Linked DNA regions of Homo sapiens: region 2 is linked to region 1. A link means that fine-mapping ties the variant in region 1 to the expression of a gene that starts in the linked region. Tissue or cell type: putamen. Region 1 holds a variant in brackets; the other region holds the start of a gene. All regions are shown on one strand. Distances are from middle to middle.

The links. PIP is the estimated chance that this variant, and not a neighbour inherited with it, causes the effect.
Region 2: TARID starts here. The variant in region 1 is fine-mapped to the expression of TARID in putamen (GTEx, PIP above 0.99). The same link has a PIP of 0.9 or more in nucleus accumbens.

What each region holds. Positions count from the first base shown.
Region 1 is chr6:133,532,675-133,540,784 of GRCh38, reverse strand. TARID (TCF21 antisense RNA inducing promoter demethylation) reads left to right here. Exons shown (of 9, transcript NR_109982.1): 6 at 3,427-5,005. Among named protein-coding and RNA genes, the nearest start is that of EYA4-AS2, 80 kb to the right of the region's middle. The variant A/G (reference allele first, on the strand shown) is at 3,513.
Region 2 is chr6:133,885,137-133,893,246 of GRCh38, reverse strand. It overlaps TARID (TCF21 antisense RNA inducing promoter demethylation), which reads left to right and starts at 4,241. Exons shown (of 9, transcript NR_109982.1): 1 at 4,241-4,643. It overlaps TCF21 (transcription factor 21), which reads right to left and starts at 4,134. Exons shown (of 2, transcript NM_003206.4): 1 at 3,400-4,134; 2 at 990-1,534. The coding sequence starts at 3,849. The coding sequence ends at 1,445. RefSeq lists enhancers at 163-771, 1,657-2,421, 3,673-4,586.

The sequences.
Region 1 (8,110 bases):
ATGATTAAACTAAATGTTCAGAAGGAAATTTTGCTAGACCATTTTTTTAAAAAAACAAAACACAATGAATGCACTCATTAATTATGTACAATTTTGTCATTGGGTAAAGAAAGAAATTTCAGGCTAGGAAGGCAACTTATTCCTAGACATAACGTTAAATAAATACGTGCCTTCAAACTTGAATTATTGCCCTGTAAAAAGACAGACAAATGTCTCAGCAACAGCTTCATTACTGTCAAGCTCATGATTTGTTGTTCCATTGACATGATGATGTGCTTTCTAGCACTAAGGTCTTGTCTGTTGTTGCAATAGAAACTCTTATTTTTAGAATTTATCATTTAGTTATTTAAAAAAAAGTTATAGTTGATCAAAAAGCATGGTAAATAAGCTCTCAGTATGCGTGCCAGTATGGGTGTATTGGAGTTACATTAGAAATGGGAGAAAAGGAACACCTATACACTCCTAACTACTACGCTAGTCCTGTTAAGCAGAATGTTGGAGGCTTAACGTGATTCAGCAGTGCCCTTTCTATTTAACACATTGCTTGCCTATGGGTGGAACTGTCATAGGTCAGGGTTATAGGTCACACATTTTTCCAAAGAAGAAAAATTAAGGAGTGGTCATAGGATGTGGCATCCTATTCACTAAGTGAGTTCTAAATTGCATTTCACAGATAATTTGATGTGGTTATGGGATGGCGCTGGAATGCAAGAAACAGATGGAGCACTGCAATTCTAGTCCTGGATATCTGTGTTCTTAAGAGGTGTGGCCAAATCGCAGGGTGACACAGAGTGAGGTGCCAGGATTCATCCAAAGCACCACAGTTTAGAGGGGAAAATATTTTAAAGTAACAATGTTAAACTATTGTGAGACATTTGAAGCCCCTTTCCTTATAAATAACTATCCATCTCTTCCTAGTCTCACATGTCTTGGCCACTATATAGCTGGAAAGAGCAGAAGACCTAGGGAATAACACAGTCAGGAGTCCCAAACTCACTTTTTATAATTTGAGTAATCGACTCCAACATCCTTTCTTCTTTAACATCTTTTATTCTAATCAATCCTAAGCACTGACTAGAGGGCATGCTTTGAGCTGCTGGTTCCAAGAATTAACATTTCCAACTGGACATTCATGCATACTCTCTTGACCACAGATGACAGAAACTAAAGTCAATCAAGTTCAAGGAAAAAAGAATAAAAAAGTTTTGGGCTTACAAAACTAGAAATTCCAGGCATGGTCACTGAGTTGAAGTTCTGTCTCCTGACATCCTAAAACCAAATTCTCTGACAGCATCAACAGGGCATGGGTTCTGAGCTGTTTCCCACATGTTGGCTTCATATTCAGATTCTCTCTCAATGTGGTAGGAAAGATGGTTCTGGCATTTTAGGCTGACATAGTCACCAGAGATCCTAATCCCAGAAAGACAGTGCATCTTTCATAATGACTTTGGAGAAAAGTCTTGGGGTGAGTTTTCATAGGCTTAGCTTGGGTCCTGAGCCCATTCTTGGGCAAATAAATATGACAAAGAGGGTGGAATATGTTGATTGGCTAGGGTTCAGCCATATGCCCAGGAGTATGGTGTTCCCTAAAAAGAGGGATGCTTTGTATACACACAAAAGTCAAGTTTACTATGGAAATGGTAACCCAAGGAATGGGAGAAAATGTCTGCAAATCTTGTATCTGATGAGGAGTTAATATCCAGAATATACAATTCAACAACAACAACAAAAACAACCCAATTAAAACATGGGCAAATGATTGAATTGACATTTCTCCAAAGATATACAAATGGCCAATATGCCATAATCATTAGGTAAATGCAAATTAAAACCACAATAAGATATCACCTCACACCCATTAGCATGGTTACTATAAAAAACAAACAGAAAATAACAAGTGTTGGTGAAGATGTGAAGAAAAGGAATTTTTGCACACTATTGTTAGAAATGTAAAGTGGTGTGGCTGCCATAGAAAGTATGGCAAGTATGGTAGTTCCTCAAAAAATTAAACATAGAATTACACAAGATCCAGCAATTCCACTTCTGGGTACATATCCAAAAGAACTTAAAGCAGGGACCCAGTTATTTGTATACCCATGTTCATAGCATCATTATTTGCAAGAGCCAAAAGGTAGAGGCAACCTAAATGCCCATCAATGGAAAAATAGAGAAACAAAATATAGTATACACACATATTATTAGTCAGCCTTAAAAAGGAAGAAAATTCTAACATAGGCTACAAAACAGGAGAACCTGAAAGAAATTTTGTTAAATGAAATCAGCCAGTCACAAAAGGACAAATACTATATGATTCTGTTTATATGAGGTACTTCAAGTAGTCAAATTCGTAGAGACAGAAAGTGGAGGAGTTGCTACAAGGTACTAAGGGGAGAGGAGAATGGGAAGTTATTGTTCAATGGGTAGAGTTTTAGTTTTAGAAGATGAAAAGAGTTTTGTGGATGGATGGTGGTGACAGCAGCACAACAATGTGGATGTACTTAATGCCATTGACTGTACACTTAAAAATGGTTAAGATCGTTACCTTTATCTGTATTTTACCACAATAATAAAAAAAAAAATCATCTCCACTAGGCGGAGGTTGCAGCGAGCTGAGATTGCGCCACTGCACTCCAGTTTGGTGACAGAACAAGACTCCGTCTCAAAAAAAAAAAAAAAAAAAAAATCATCTCCACTATAGAATTTCAGAAAAGAGGTAAACTTGGCTACATAGCTTTTCTCCACTTACCCTTTAGGAACTTGCTTCTGAACATCTTCCATTCAGATACTCCTAAAATCATAAATCATGCTGACTCAATGCTCCATCATGGTTTATTTTTCCTATATTAGGTGGCCCCAGAACCTTCCTAATTCCCCACTCTAATCAGAAGCCTGTCCAGTACCCTTCTTGGAACCATGCTGTAGGTTAGGGAGCCTGTAAGTCTGTTGTATTAAGAGCAGTTGATATGCATGCTTAAAGGTGTTTTAAAAGGGAGGAATCTGCAAAATGTATCTTAACTTAAATGCAAATTAATTGAGCAGCTTTAATTGAATAGTTATCTCTTGGGCCTTCATATAGGACTGGATATAATTCCAATCATCAAGTCAAATAATCAGCTTAGGGTCCTTTTACTGCTTATCTGCAGAACTAACATTCCTACTACATAAAGGCCATTTCTCACATAGGCAACACAGGAGTTACTTGGATGGCAATTATATTCACAGAGAGAAAAAACAGTGACAGTTAACTCCATTGCTTGCAATCTCACCTGCTCTTGATGGCACTTTCCCTCAGATCATACCCCTTCAAGTGCTAAACAACTCAACTGAAGTCAATGGACAGAAGATATGGTGCAATGAGCCTATTTTGCAGTCCAGATAATTTCCACCTAATGGACTAAGTTCCAATTCTGTCTGTGCTACCTACAGGTTGTATAATCTTGGGAGGTCACTTCAACTATACAATTGGACTAAGAACACTGACTCTCGTGGGTGTTATAATTAAATCAGGTAAT[A/G]TATGGTAAGGTAAGCATTGATTAGTCTCTTCATTAGTTGATTAGCCTCTTCAAATGTTAGTTTGATTAGTCTCTTCAAACGTTAGTTTCCTTCCTCTTTTCAGTATGCTCGCTGAAAAGCTGGCTACAGAGCGAGTGACTGAATCAAAGCATCACATCCTACATGCTCCCATTCCCCATCTTGCTACAGTGGTACCAGCTTCTGTGCCCAGAAGATGGTGCTGTGGTTGGATGAATAAAACAATTACAGGGCCTTCAAGGATAAGAAGAAGGAACATGGATAAATATCCCCATTCTGCCTAGACAGAAATAAGAAAAACATTCCCTTTTCTCTTCTTTAAAACGAATTCTTGAGTCATGCATGGCAACAATATGTGTTGCCAAAAGTGGCCAGTTTGTGGTAGTAGGTTTTATTCAGAAAATCAGTGGGTGATGAAAATTTAGAAGATGCACTCATCATTTGTAAAACTGTAGATGAAAGTTTAAAAGATGATGTTATACCACTTTTTCTTCACTGCCCTCATCAGTGGCTCCATCCCACCCTCCTGCTGTTCTCATAACTGATGTAGAAATAATTTCATGAGCCAAACAGGATGGTTTTATACGTGTGTGTTTGGCATTAACTTTATTTCCTATTCACGTACCAGATATTACTGCCCGCTCTTATGAAATAGTTTATTCCACCATAAATGTATGTTTTAATGATCACCACATTTTTTTGGAATACATTAATCTGTCTAAAAATAGGTGATTAAATCATCTGTCATTCTGCTGTGAAGCTCTTTAATGTTTTCTTTGGGAAATAAATTAGAATGCCATATTGGTTTCCAAGCAGACATAAGCTGGCGATGACTTTTTTGTACAAAAGTTACTGATGAAAAGCTCATAGAGGCATTTGGATTTCTTCAGGGTTGTAAATCCAGGTATGTTACTACTTTATCTACTGGAAATTGGGGTAATGCAGGAGATGGGAAAGCATGATGTTAAATCAACTGGTGACCCCAAATAATTTTCCATGGTGTTCATCAGCCATGCACACACTGTATTACTGTCATCATTCCTAGCTTTTCCACTATGCTGTCTCAAGTTTGCACAAATTGTAAGTGATTTTAAATCATTAACTGATGTGACATAATCAAATTACTTAGGGTTTTATTTACTGTGCTCCGAGTAATTCAGTTATGACTTGGCAAGGTATTTAACAGACAATAGTGAAGTTACTACAAATTCAACTTTGCATTGGACAACTCCATTTGAGGATACCACCACCTTCAAATTAACAATTCCAGAAACTGGTCTCAGTATCTCGTTCCAACAACAAGCATCACCCACTACAATAAAAACAGCAAGTAGAATCTTTTTACTTCTTTTGTGTTTCTCATCTCGGCAAACTGCACTACAATCTACCAAACTGCCCGAGCCAGAAACCTAGAGGTCAGGCTGGATTTTCCTGAGGACATGAGGTGAAGAAGCAACCACTGCGAAGTACTAAGGTATTCTTAATACCCTAATTTCTTTGAATCTATGCACTGTCTCATATTCATGCCCATCACCTAATTCAGGAATCTCTCCAGGATCCTGCACCAGCCTCTTAGATCCCTCACTCTCCTCAGCCTGGCCAGAGTAACTATTATAAGATATAAACTGGGACACATAAATCCTCTGTTAACAAACCTTTCATTCAGTACCTACTGATACCCGAGTAAAACTGAAATTGGTTGATGCTGTATTAAAAATCCTCACCAAGTGGCCCTTGTTTTTTTTTCAGTCTCATTTCTTACTATTCCTTTTATTCACTCCATGCTTCAGAAACAAGAATTACTTGCAGTTCCCTGACTACACCATTCTACCCTTCTCCCTCTTACCTGCATTCTCTTACATATTTTCCACTTTGCTTATATGCTTCCAATCCAGTCCTGCAAATGCTCTGGCCTTCTCGGTTTTGTCCTTGGGGCTTCAGCTTTGGACTCATTTTCTCCAAGAATCTTCCCTTTAAGGGCTGGTTAGGTTTCTCTGCAAGTGACTCACCATGCCCCTGTGCTTATCCCCTGCTAACACCCTTCATTCGTTATCTTAAGAGTCACCCCGATTGAAAAGCATAAGAACCTTAAGGGTCAGGACTGTGATGAGTTTAGGGTCAGCAGTACTCTGCTGTGGTTCTGTGGAGGATGATTTACTTGGTGGTCCCTCTACCTTTTCCAGTACACCCTCTTTCAATTCTATGTATTTTCACTGAAGGCTCACCAGAAAACTAAAATGGCAGCATCATAGCAGACATAAGGCACACAAATCTAAGATTTCATGACCACAAAGGACAATGCATTGCCCTTTAGCCATAGAGACACTGTCCCTGCAAGCTGCAATCAAAAGGCATTTTGTTGGGAGGGAAAATAGTCATCTGGCTTATATGGAGTTATATGCATTGTCAGAGATCCTTTAGCATATTACATTTGGAGATCTTTCAAACTGTGTGCTAACACAGACCTGGAAGGTTCTGTGGATGAAGGAAAAGCTAAGGAATAATGGCTACTATTTCCATTGAAAGTCAGAACTTGGGCACAATGAACATTTTCCCCTTGAGGCTCTGAGAGGGCATCTTTGTTGATTGCAGTATATCTCAAGAATTGACTCTGGCACAGTCAAATGTAGACTGCTTTGTGTAGCGACCTGTGTATTAGCACACATGCATACTTTGCCAGAATTACATCCAATAACTTTTAAAGAATATACAAAACCATGCAGAGATGTTAAATAATGGTTATTAGTCTGGGTGCAGTGGCTCACACCTGTAATCTCAGCACTTTCGGAGTCTGAGGCAGGAGGATTGCTTGAGTCCAGGAGTTCGAGGTTACAGTGAGCTATGATGGTGCCACTGCACTTCAGCCTGGGCAACAAAGCAAGACCCTGGATCAAAAAATAAATGGTTCTCTTTTGGTAACTAAACAACATCCGACACTTAAAATTTTTTTTGTTGTTGTTTGTTTCAGGGACTCAGAATCATGAACCACAGTTTGCAGAGAGATCTGATTTTTACATGTTTGTTTGTGTGTGGCTTTAAGTAATGTAAGTCAATTAAGCCTACTAATATTGCATACTTTTTCTTTTATGAAAGGGAAAAAGGGAGTATAAAGGAGGCAATCGCTGATTCATTGTAAACGTTTTTTATCCAGACGATCATTCTCAGGTCACATACAACCTTTCTTCAATTACATCTTTGCTTATGGCCATCCTTGTTCTTTATTTCCATAAATTAGGCCAGCAAATACTCCAGCTAAGGTATAAAAACTTACACAGGTCCTGTGTATGTTTTCTTCTCTCCTTTTCCCTTTCAAATCTAGCTCGATCATTTCTTTTCTTTTCTTTTTTTTTTTGAGACAGAGTCTTGCTCTGTCTTCCAGGCTAGAGTGCAGTGGCGTGATCACAGCTCGCTGCAGCCTCCACCTCCCAGGCTCATGCGATCTTCCCGTCTTGGCACCATGAGTAGCTGGGACTACAGGCACGCACTATCACATCTGGCTATTAGAAAAAGAGAGACAGAGAGAGAGACAGGGTCTCTCTATGTTGCCCAGGCTGGTCCTGAACTCCTGAACTCAAGTGATCCTCCCACCGGCCTCCCAAAGTGCTGGGATTATAGGAATGAGCCATCACACATGGTCCTCTACCACTTTAAATCTCTTCAATTCTAGATCATGCTCATGCAAGTGTTTTCCTGAAGTTTATACATTGTAATGGATGAATCAACAACACAAAAAATAAATGTGTATCATGCTGGATTAATCTAAGAACTAAGTATTTTTTCTTAGTAAAGAAGGAAAATGCTAGAGGTGTTGGGAAGCAGGTGCAATTTCAGAGAGGAGGACCTTTACAGCAAAAAGGTGTTCTTTAAGAACTGAAGAAACCCAGGGCATAGGTGATGCAAAGATCTGGGTGAAAACCTTTTCAAGTGGAAGGAATGGTGAGTGCAAAAGGCCTGCAGCAGGTGGGTGGGTGCAGGTATGTGCCAAACACGGAGGTGCCAGTTTGGCAGTGAGTTGTGAGACAGAGGAAGGGAGAGCTCACCAGGGATGCTGCCTGTGGGCTTACAGGCCATTGCAAAGGTCACTGGTGTTTGTGCCAAGCGAGCTGGTGGTTTCCAAGAAGAGGAGAGAGATATCCTCTGATGCACGGTATGTTTCTGGCTAGTGTGATGAGATGGTGAAAGGGTGTGAGGGCCAGAGAAGGGAGACTAAGCTAGAGGCTGATGTACTTATCTATGTGAGAAAGGATGCTGGTTTCAGCTGGGGTGGTAGTCGTGGGAGAGGTGAGAAGAGGCCGGCGCAGAAGCACAAGCTCAGATTTGGACATGTTGATTTGAGAGGTCGTTTCTTCCAAGCAGGTATATAAATAGGCAAACAAGATACATTTGTTTGGAGTTCAGTGGGGAGCTGGAATACGATATGTATAATTTAGTCTTTCTCATAAATTCAATTTCAATGGCAACTGGATATAAGAGAAAACAAAAGAAGTTTACATATTAAATTTATTTTAAACATTTCCATTGTTTTCCTGTAAATCAGTATTGATTTTTGGATGGTGTAAGGCTTACTAGAATGTTGCCA
Region 2 (8,110 bases), 350 kb before region 1:
TCCTTCCTCCATGGCCAGGCAGAGGGCTCCACCCGCGAAGCGGCCTGTGGGGTTGGTGGAAGGGCGGAGAAGCTCTCGCTCCAGGTACCAAACTAAGCCGAGAAAAAAGGGTAAAAAATCGAAAAGAAAGAGCAAATGAAGCGGAAGTTTCAAGGCTCTCTGCGAGGAATAACAGTATAAATAACCGAAGACGTCTTGTAAACACTGCGGTCATAACCCCGAACATTAAACAGCCCCGGTGGCATCTGGCGCATCGGCCGCCGCGGGCTGCGCTGGGGCAGTGAGGGAGCCGGGTCGCAGGCTCCTCGGCCTTGCTTCTCTGTTTATCTCAACTTAATCTTCCCTTAGGAGCTGTTCCGTAGCCTGGAAAATGTTTAAATTAAACCCAGTCCGCCGGAAGTCGTGGCGGGAGCTAAACGCACCCGCTAACAGCAACCAAAAGGCAGGCATGCGGGTTTATTGTTAGAATTAATTAATGGACTATTAATAAGAAATGTAGATAATGTATGCTGCAGAGCTTTGAAAATCCTGAAACACACCCTAAGGGTTATGGAATTTACATCTTTCATAGCTTCTATTATTTCTTCACTAGTTTGCAGCTATGCTCACACCTGGAAGGTGACAAAAGGTGGAGTTTACTTTCTCGCCCGTGTCAGCAGTCATACGGTGGAATCCATGAAAATTGGATTTCCTTTTTCTGGTGCGTTTTACTCTTGAACTGTATAACTGTGGATAACTTTAATACTGCCCATTCTTTGTTTTCAGTTATATAATTTCTATTAGCCTTAAAAGTAACCGATATATTTCTTTTTTAAGGTTTCAGTATAAAACATAATCTGCATCTTCATTATGAAACTCATATGCAATTTTCTTCTATCTCTAGAAGTTTAGATTGAGGTTTAAAAGAACCATTTTCATTATCAAGCTTCCCCATAGTTTCCCACTTTCTTATTCCAAATATTTTTAAAAATCACTCCAAATATCAGAGCTTTTAGCAATATAAAGAAAGATTTATTTTCAAAAGTAGCAAAACTTGTTTGAAAAAAATATATATCTTTAAGTGAATTACTTTATAAATGTGACTGTCAAAGTCAGCTATCCTATGATCTACATTTTACAACATATTGTACAAAAGATACATTGATAGGCTCTTATCTATTTATATATTTATAATTACATATTGCACTTGGACCAGCAAGGCTTGCAGAGTCATTCACGGTAGAAGTTAATAAAGTTAAATAGATGGGAATCTTTGTAAGTACAATTGATCTCCTCTGGTTTGGAAACGAATCTCCTCGTCGTTGTAAAGTGTTCTCGCGGGGTGGGACAGAGAGAGGAGCATTGCGAGGGGGAAGCAGAGACAGAGAGCACTGAGGGCAGGGGTCGCCTTCCCGGGGCCCGCTCCCCCCGGGAGCGCGCCTTTCCCAGACTCGCACCTCCAAGGTCAGGACGCGGTGGTTCCACATAAGCGGCTCGCGGTCACCACTTCTTTCAGGTCACTCTCGGGTTTCCCGGCCACCATAAAGGGCCACGTCTGCGGGAAAGAAGAGGGTGGAGGAGGTAAGTGGCCGTGGCGGAGGGGGTGGGGTGGACTCGGGGCCTGAGATGAAAGGAAGGGGGGCGGTGGGGGCAGGCGGTGCTCTGGAGAGACCGGTTATCTCTGCAATTTACTCCCGGTCCTAGCGCACCCTGCGGCTGCATAAAGCAAATAGCTGCTTTGGCGCCAAGTCACAGCTCGAGGTGGTGGTGGTGCTGGTGGTGGTCTTTTAGAATGAGAGCCAAAAGGGCTTATACTGGGTTCCTTGTGAGACTCAATGCAGGAAGCCCCGGGCAAGCCGAGAGTGGGAGAGTGGGTGGTGCTGTGGCACTGCCTGGAGGCAGACGCTTTGGCAGTCTGAGCCGGGAAGCCCAGAACGACCTTGTGCCTACTGGGCACCGAGTTCGGGGCGAAGCGCCCTCCTGGCCTCCTTCTGAGGCGGTGGTCGGGTTTCAGGGCCCTGTCGCTTTCATCGCCTTTCATCACCATCTATTTCCCTAGTCCGACTTTCGTTTCTTCCATCGCAAACACCGGCTTTGACTACAGCTTCTAGATTAATCACCACCTCTTAAGGAAAAAAAAATGCTATACTACATTGACTTTTAATTTAAGATCGTCTTCATGCTGGACTGAGAAAGTATGCTTTCTCTTCCTTTCTCCGGGCTGTTTTATAATAAAGCTCATTTAAGTTTCTTATTCAAAGATGAAGAGAGTAGCAGTTGTAAATATTCGAGGCAACACTTTCATTTTAGGTGGAGATTTTAAAAAGCTATTTACTCATTGGGGGGGAAAAACCCCAAACTTTCAATTGGAGAGAAAACATTTTTCATGGTAAAATGTGGGTTTGCATCTTCTTCTCCAGCAATTCCAGAAACCAATTCGGTGAGAAGACAATTCAGACCCCTCTCACTACTGCTCTAGTGCTAGCTGATAAGACTTGCCTTTTAAAAGGAAAAATCTCTCATTCTTATCATATACAAACAGAGATCCTAGTAAGTTGTTGTTATTGTTTTTCTTTAGATCTTAGAAGTTTTAAAATAAAATCAAATGAAAAAAATTAAGATATATTTCTTAAACAGTAAAATACATTTGAGAAAAAAGTAGACTCAATGATTATCAGTTTTTTGTGTTAAAAAATTAGGCTCAATGGGCATTACTTTTTAAGATAAAAGGTAACATTTCTTAAATCTTGGGTGAGAGTGACCTATTTTAGTATTTATTACACTCATACTAGTGAGGATTTACTGATTTTGCTGATCATTACTAGAACTTCTGGGATTTAAAAATATTAATCCACTTATAGGAGAAGCACAGAATATTTAAGCGGTTAAGGGCTTACGTGGACAATTTGGGGGGCATAGATGTGTCCTTATCCAATGGTCCTAAATATGCTTGTGAAAGAAACGGAGTTGGGTGTTTTTATTTACAAGGAAAGGAAAATCAAGTTCCACTCTCTGCTAAAAGAAGAAAAAAGGATTAACAAAATGCCTGTCCGCTCGCAGCGTCTTGTCAGTGTTCTCAGTTCCGCAGCAGCCACTGCACCCCAGGGAGGATGGCGATGGAGCGGGAGCGGGGGATCCCTCCTCTGTGCCAGCTCAACACACTTGCAAACTTTTAATTGGGCTGCCACGTCAAACCCTCGCATAAATCACTCCCGCTCCGGGGGCTGGTAGGGCAGAGAGCGAGGGCCGTGTCTAGACCGCCCGCCTCCGGTCCCTGGAGGCTCTAGGCCCGCGGTGGTCGAGATGTGTAAGTCACCGCCGCGCCCACACCCCCACTCCCAGCCCCGCGCGCACTCGCGCCCACCGCAGGCGGGAGTGCGGGCGCGCCTGGACTGCAGCTGCAGCCCCGGGAGCACTCACCAGGTTGACCGGGTGAATGTACCCGTTCTCGTATTTGTCGTTAGCCAGGATCTGCCTCAAGTGGGCGATGTAGCTGGACGCCAGCCTGAGCGTGTCCAGCTTGGAGAGCTTGGTGTCGGGGGGCACCCAGGGCAGGGTGGTCTTGAGTCTGGAGAAGGCCTTGCTCAGCACTCGCATGCGGGCCCGCTCTCGCGCGTTGGCGGCGTTGCGCTGGACCTGCTTCCCCTCCTGGCTGACCCCGCTCAGGGGGCTCTTCTTGGTGGGCGCCTTCCTCCTCTTGCCCAGGCCGCCGCGGCCCTTCTGGGGAGACCCATTCTCGCAGTTGGAGCTCTCCTCGGTGCTCTCGTTGGAAGTCACAAATTCCTTGTTCGAATCCATTTTCAACCCGTCACATTCCAACATCTCCACCTCTTGAAGGTCCTCCACATCGCTGAGGGAGCCGGTGGACATGTTTGGGGGAGTGGACGAGGGAGAGAGAGAGAGAGAGACAGAGAGACAGAGAAAGCGAGGAAGAGGGTGAGAGAGAGACAGAGAGACCCTGAAACCAAGAGGCCTCCCGAGTGTGGCGCAGCCACCTCCTGCTGGGAGCTGGAGTTGGGGTCTGGTTGGGTCTCACAACCCTTTCCCCTTCGCAGAGTTGTGAGAAGGAACCCCGAGGACTTCTGCAGCAGAGGAACCGGCTCTCTGTTTCCCCACTCCCAGAGTCGTGGCCGTAGAGGAGGGTGAGCGAGCGCTGAGGAATTTGGTGGACACTAGGAATTTATCTGGGGAATAGAGGGGCGGATCCTTGCAGCCCAGGGAGGGGCCTGCCAGGCCCCAGCAAAGCGCTTAGACCCCTTTCACAACCGGAGGGAAACTCAATGCACAGACCCTGATTTGCAACTTGTAATGTAAATCAACTCAACTGCATCATGTACTTACCAGCCACCTTCTCCCAACTGTGGCCGGGGCCGAGAAGCAGCATGTTCTGTCCATCTGTAAAAGGCCTTCTTTCTCTCTTAAGACGTCACAACTGGTTGTTACTGAGAACTTTAGAAAAACGACTAGATCGTTTGGCTCTTTCTGGGCCTTCCACCTACACTCCATGCCCTCTCTCCTCCCAAGAAAACACGAATTAAAATACAGGGAGTATCAACCGCATCCTGCCAACACCTCATAAGACTCCAAGGCTTTACCGAGATCTTCCACCTTCCCCGGGATAAATGAAGACAAGTGCTTCCTAGAATCTTTATGGTGATGGAAAAGTAAGTATAAAACATTTCACCTACACCTGGTCATTTTCAAGACATCAAAGGACTGCCTACGTGTACACAAACATACTTGATTTGCACACTCAAACCCAACCACACACAGCTTAGTGGGAGTGGGTAGGGAATGAGAGGGCAGTATGAGTGTGTGGAAAACATTATGTTAGTTGATCATCTTTTCCTAATAAATGGAAACTTTCCCCTCGGTTTTTTTTTCTTTTCTAGAAATGCATTTAATATTGCCTTGAGAGTCTTTGTTGCTCTCAGACATCACCTTGCCTGGCACTTTTTGTGATGCACCGTCCCTTTCAATGCTGCTGTCTTTGTCTTCTTCCAGCCTGTTAGGTGCCAGTGTTCCTCACATGAAGCTGACATTACACAACACAAAGCAAGACTATCCTTTTGAGAAAGGTTCTTTTCCATCTTTAACCCCAGCTCGAACCACCTTTCCTAGAGAATAAGAAAGTCTCCTGGGAAGTAGGTAGAAAAAGCACAGGGAAACAGAACCTAGGGATTGGATGAAATTGGTGCAATGAAACCAGGGAGACTGAAGGCATAAATCTCTCTTACAATTTCTTTGCCAGGTTTTCTTCCCTTGCAGGTAGGCATTGAAGTTGAGGGGCTGGAGCAAAATGTAAGAGTGGTTTCTGAGTGGTTGGCTTAGGGTCTGAAGGCTTCTCCTACATTAAGATATCATATCTCTAATCCTAGGCTCAGCTGGGAATTCACTAACCTCTAACGTTTTGTTTTGCTAGCAGGGTCTTGTTTGCTTTCCCCCTATGCTGTAAACTAAACAGGTTGTCAGCAAATCAGTCTTTATTAATGAATTAGCGACCCCTCTTCCATAATATCTTCGCTGAGGATCCAAAATTTGTTAATCACCAGTGTAGAGATTTATGAGCTCTCTTATTTTCTGTTGTTTGTGCAGGTGGAGATTTAAATGACCACATCCACCCTAAGATTTATTGTGAGAATGATTGATGTTATAAACCAGGAAAAGGACTCTTCCCACAGCAGGGATGACAGAAATATCAAGTTGAAGTTGCCTTTGTCTTCACATACGAATGACCCAGTACTACAACACAGAAAGTATAATAATTTAATCTGAGGTTCAAGACAGCAGTGAGAGAACACCCAGCAGGCCTGTTAAAAATTTCTTCACTAATTCCTCAACTAGTTTCCTTTGATTTGCTCTCCCTTTTCTCAGTCTTGGTAAAACATGAAAGTTAAAGTTATTTTTAGACTAAAGAGCTATGTGAAAATGGGCATTGGCCAATACTTTGTGAAATGTGTGTGTGTGTGTGTGTGTGTGTGTGTAGCTACTAAGATATCTGCAAAATAACTACAAATAATTAATTTGGGCTCTGGAATGTGATAATTATTATAAATCCAAACTATGGCCTTACTGCATACATTAAGCTGTGATTTTTCTTGTTGGAGCCATTTTTTTTTCTTTTTGGCTCTGGGTCTCTGTTACACCTTAGTTAATGGACTGCTCAGGCTGTCTGGGGAGATAGTAAAAATCATAGTAATATGTACCACTGAAAAGATTTCTGTTGTCTGTATATTTTTCAATGTTGGAAACTTAAAAGTACCAATTTCTGGAAGCATGTAAAACTAGCCTCATGTCATAGGCTGGTTTTTATGCTTAGCAATTATTTTTCTTCATAGCCATATAAGAAATAATTAAGTCCCATGTCCATTTATCTTGCAGTAAGACATTTGGGCTGAGAAAGGCTAGTGGGCTGATAATAAATTTTGGAGTGTTTCTAAAATTCTGTAAAAGATGGCTTCCAGTTTGGGAGTAAGAGTCGAAGAATACTGTTGCTTATGTATCTTGATATGAAGTCTTGGAGAGAGAATATTCATATGAAAAATACTTTTTTTCTTTTAAAATTTTGTGTCTATCCCTGCTAATAAACACTTAGGGACAAATGGGTGGGAGAAATGACTTCTTGTTGGATTCTACTGAGCAAGTCATTTAAGCTGTAACTTAAGCTGTGCCAAATTCTCCCAAAATATAAACTATATTCTGTGAGAAGACAAGCACTTTTGAGAAGCTGTATTAACCCTTTTGGTAAGTTGACCATTTCTGTTCCAAAGCACGAAATAGAAAACTCGTGATTTGAAAGTATGAGATCATTTCTAAAAGTTCTTACCTGACTTTTAAGAAACATTTATGCCCCAGAGGCATCTGGCCAATTTGCTGCTCACTTCTAACAATTTGTTTTGCAAGAGAGACTATCTTTGAAAGATTTTAGTGCTAAGGAAATTTTATCTCTGAAAGCTGTAAAATGAAGATTAGGCATGGAATGTACCCTTGAACTTAAATCCTGGTTTATCAGCTGATACATTTACAGGAAGTTCAAATTTGATTCAGTTGCACTTGGATGGAATAATTTGCTTCCTTTTTTATGAGAAGGAAAACATCATAGGCTTCCTTTGAACTGACTTCATATGCCATTACATAATCTTTCTCAGGGGAAAAATATGCCTTTAAATTTAAATGTTAATCCTTTTCTCTTACTCCTCATCATTTGGTCAGGAGACACAGGCTGGCAAATTGGCAAAACTGCCCATTCTCTTTTTTCTTCATTTCTAATTAGCACCTCCAGATGTTTTATTCATTTTATTTGATGGTAACTACCACCACTTCAAATATTTGCCAACTTTCTATGCAAAAAAAAGTTGACGCCTTTTTTTTTTCTTTTTTTGATGGAGTCTTGCTCTGTCACCCAAGCTGGAGTGCATCAGCACGATCTAGGCTAACTGCAACCTCCGCCTCCCAGGTTCAAGAGATTCTCATGCCTCAGCCTCCCGAGTAGCTAGAATTACAGGTGCCTGCCACCATGCCTATCTAATTTTTGTATTTTTAGTAGAGGTGGGGTTTCACCATTTTGGCCAGGCTGGTTTCAAACTCCTGATCTACCCACTTCAGACTCCCAAAGTGCTGGGATTACAGGCATGAGCCACCGTGCCCAGCCAGGTGCCTCTTTTTTGATTTTACATAATTATCTCCATATACTTTGTTTGCTGCTGATTGACTGTTGTCTATCTCCCGCTTATATGCCTATCAAACTCTGACTTTGTTTCATTAAATTTTAACTTTATTTAATAAAGTGAGCATTACCTCTCTTTGCTCATTCTAAATTATAGTGGTGCTGTCCTGTTATATTTTGGCAGCCAAAGTGAATATGGCACTAGTGAGCTTGGTGGCTAGCTAAGAAGGTCAATAACAGTGATGCTGGGTATTGCTGCTACCTTTACCTGGCACCAGCTGGGAGATGGTATAAATCCTGGATGGTATAAATCCATTCAGTAATTAGAAGTCTTCTGCGTGTTCACTATACCTTAACCCCCTCTTTTCACATTTAATTCAGTGAATTGTAGATAAGATGCCACATTGCTAAGATTTAAAGGTGGCAAATAACAACAATAAAGTCTAGGGAAAGATTCTGCATGGT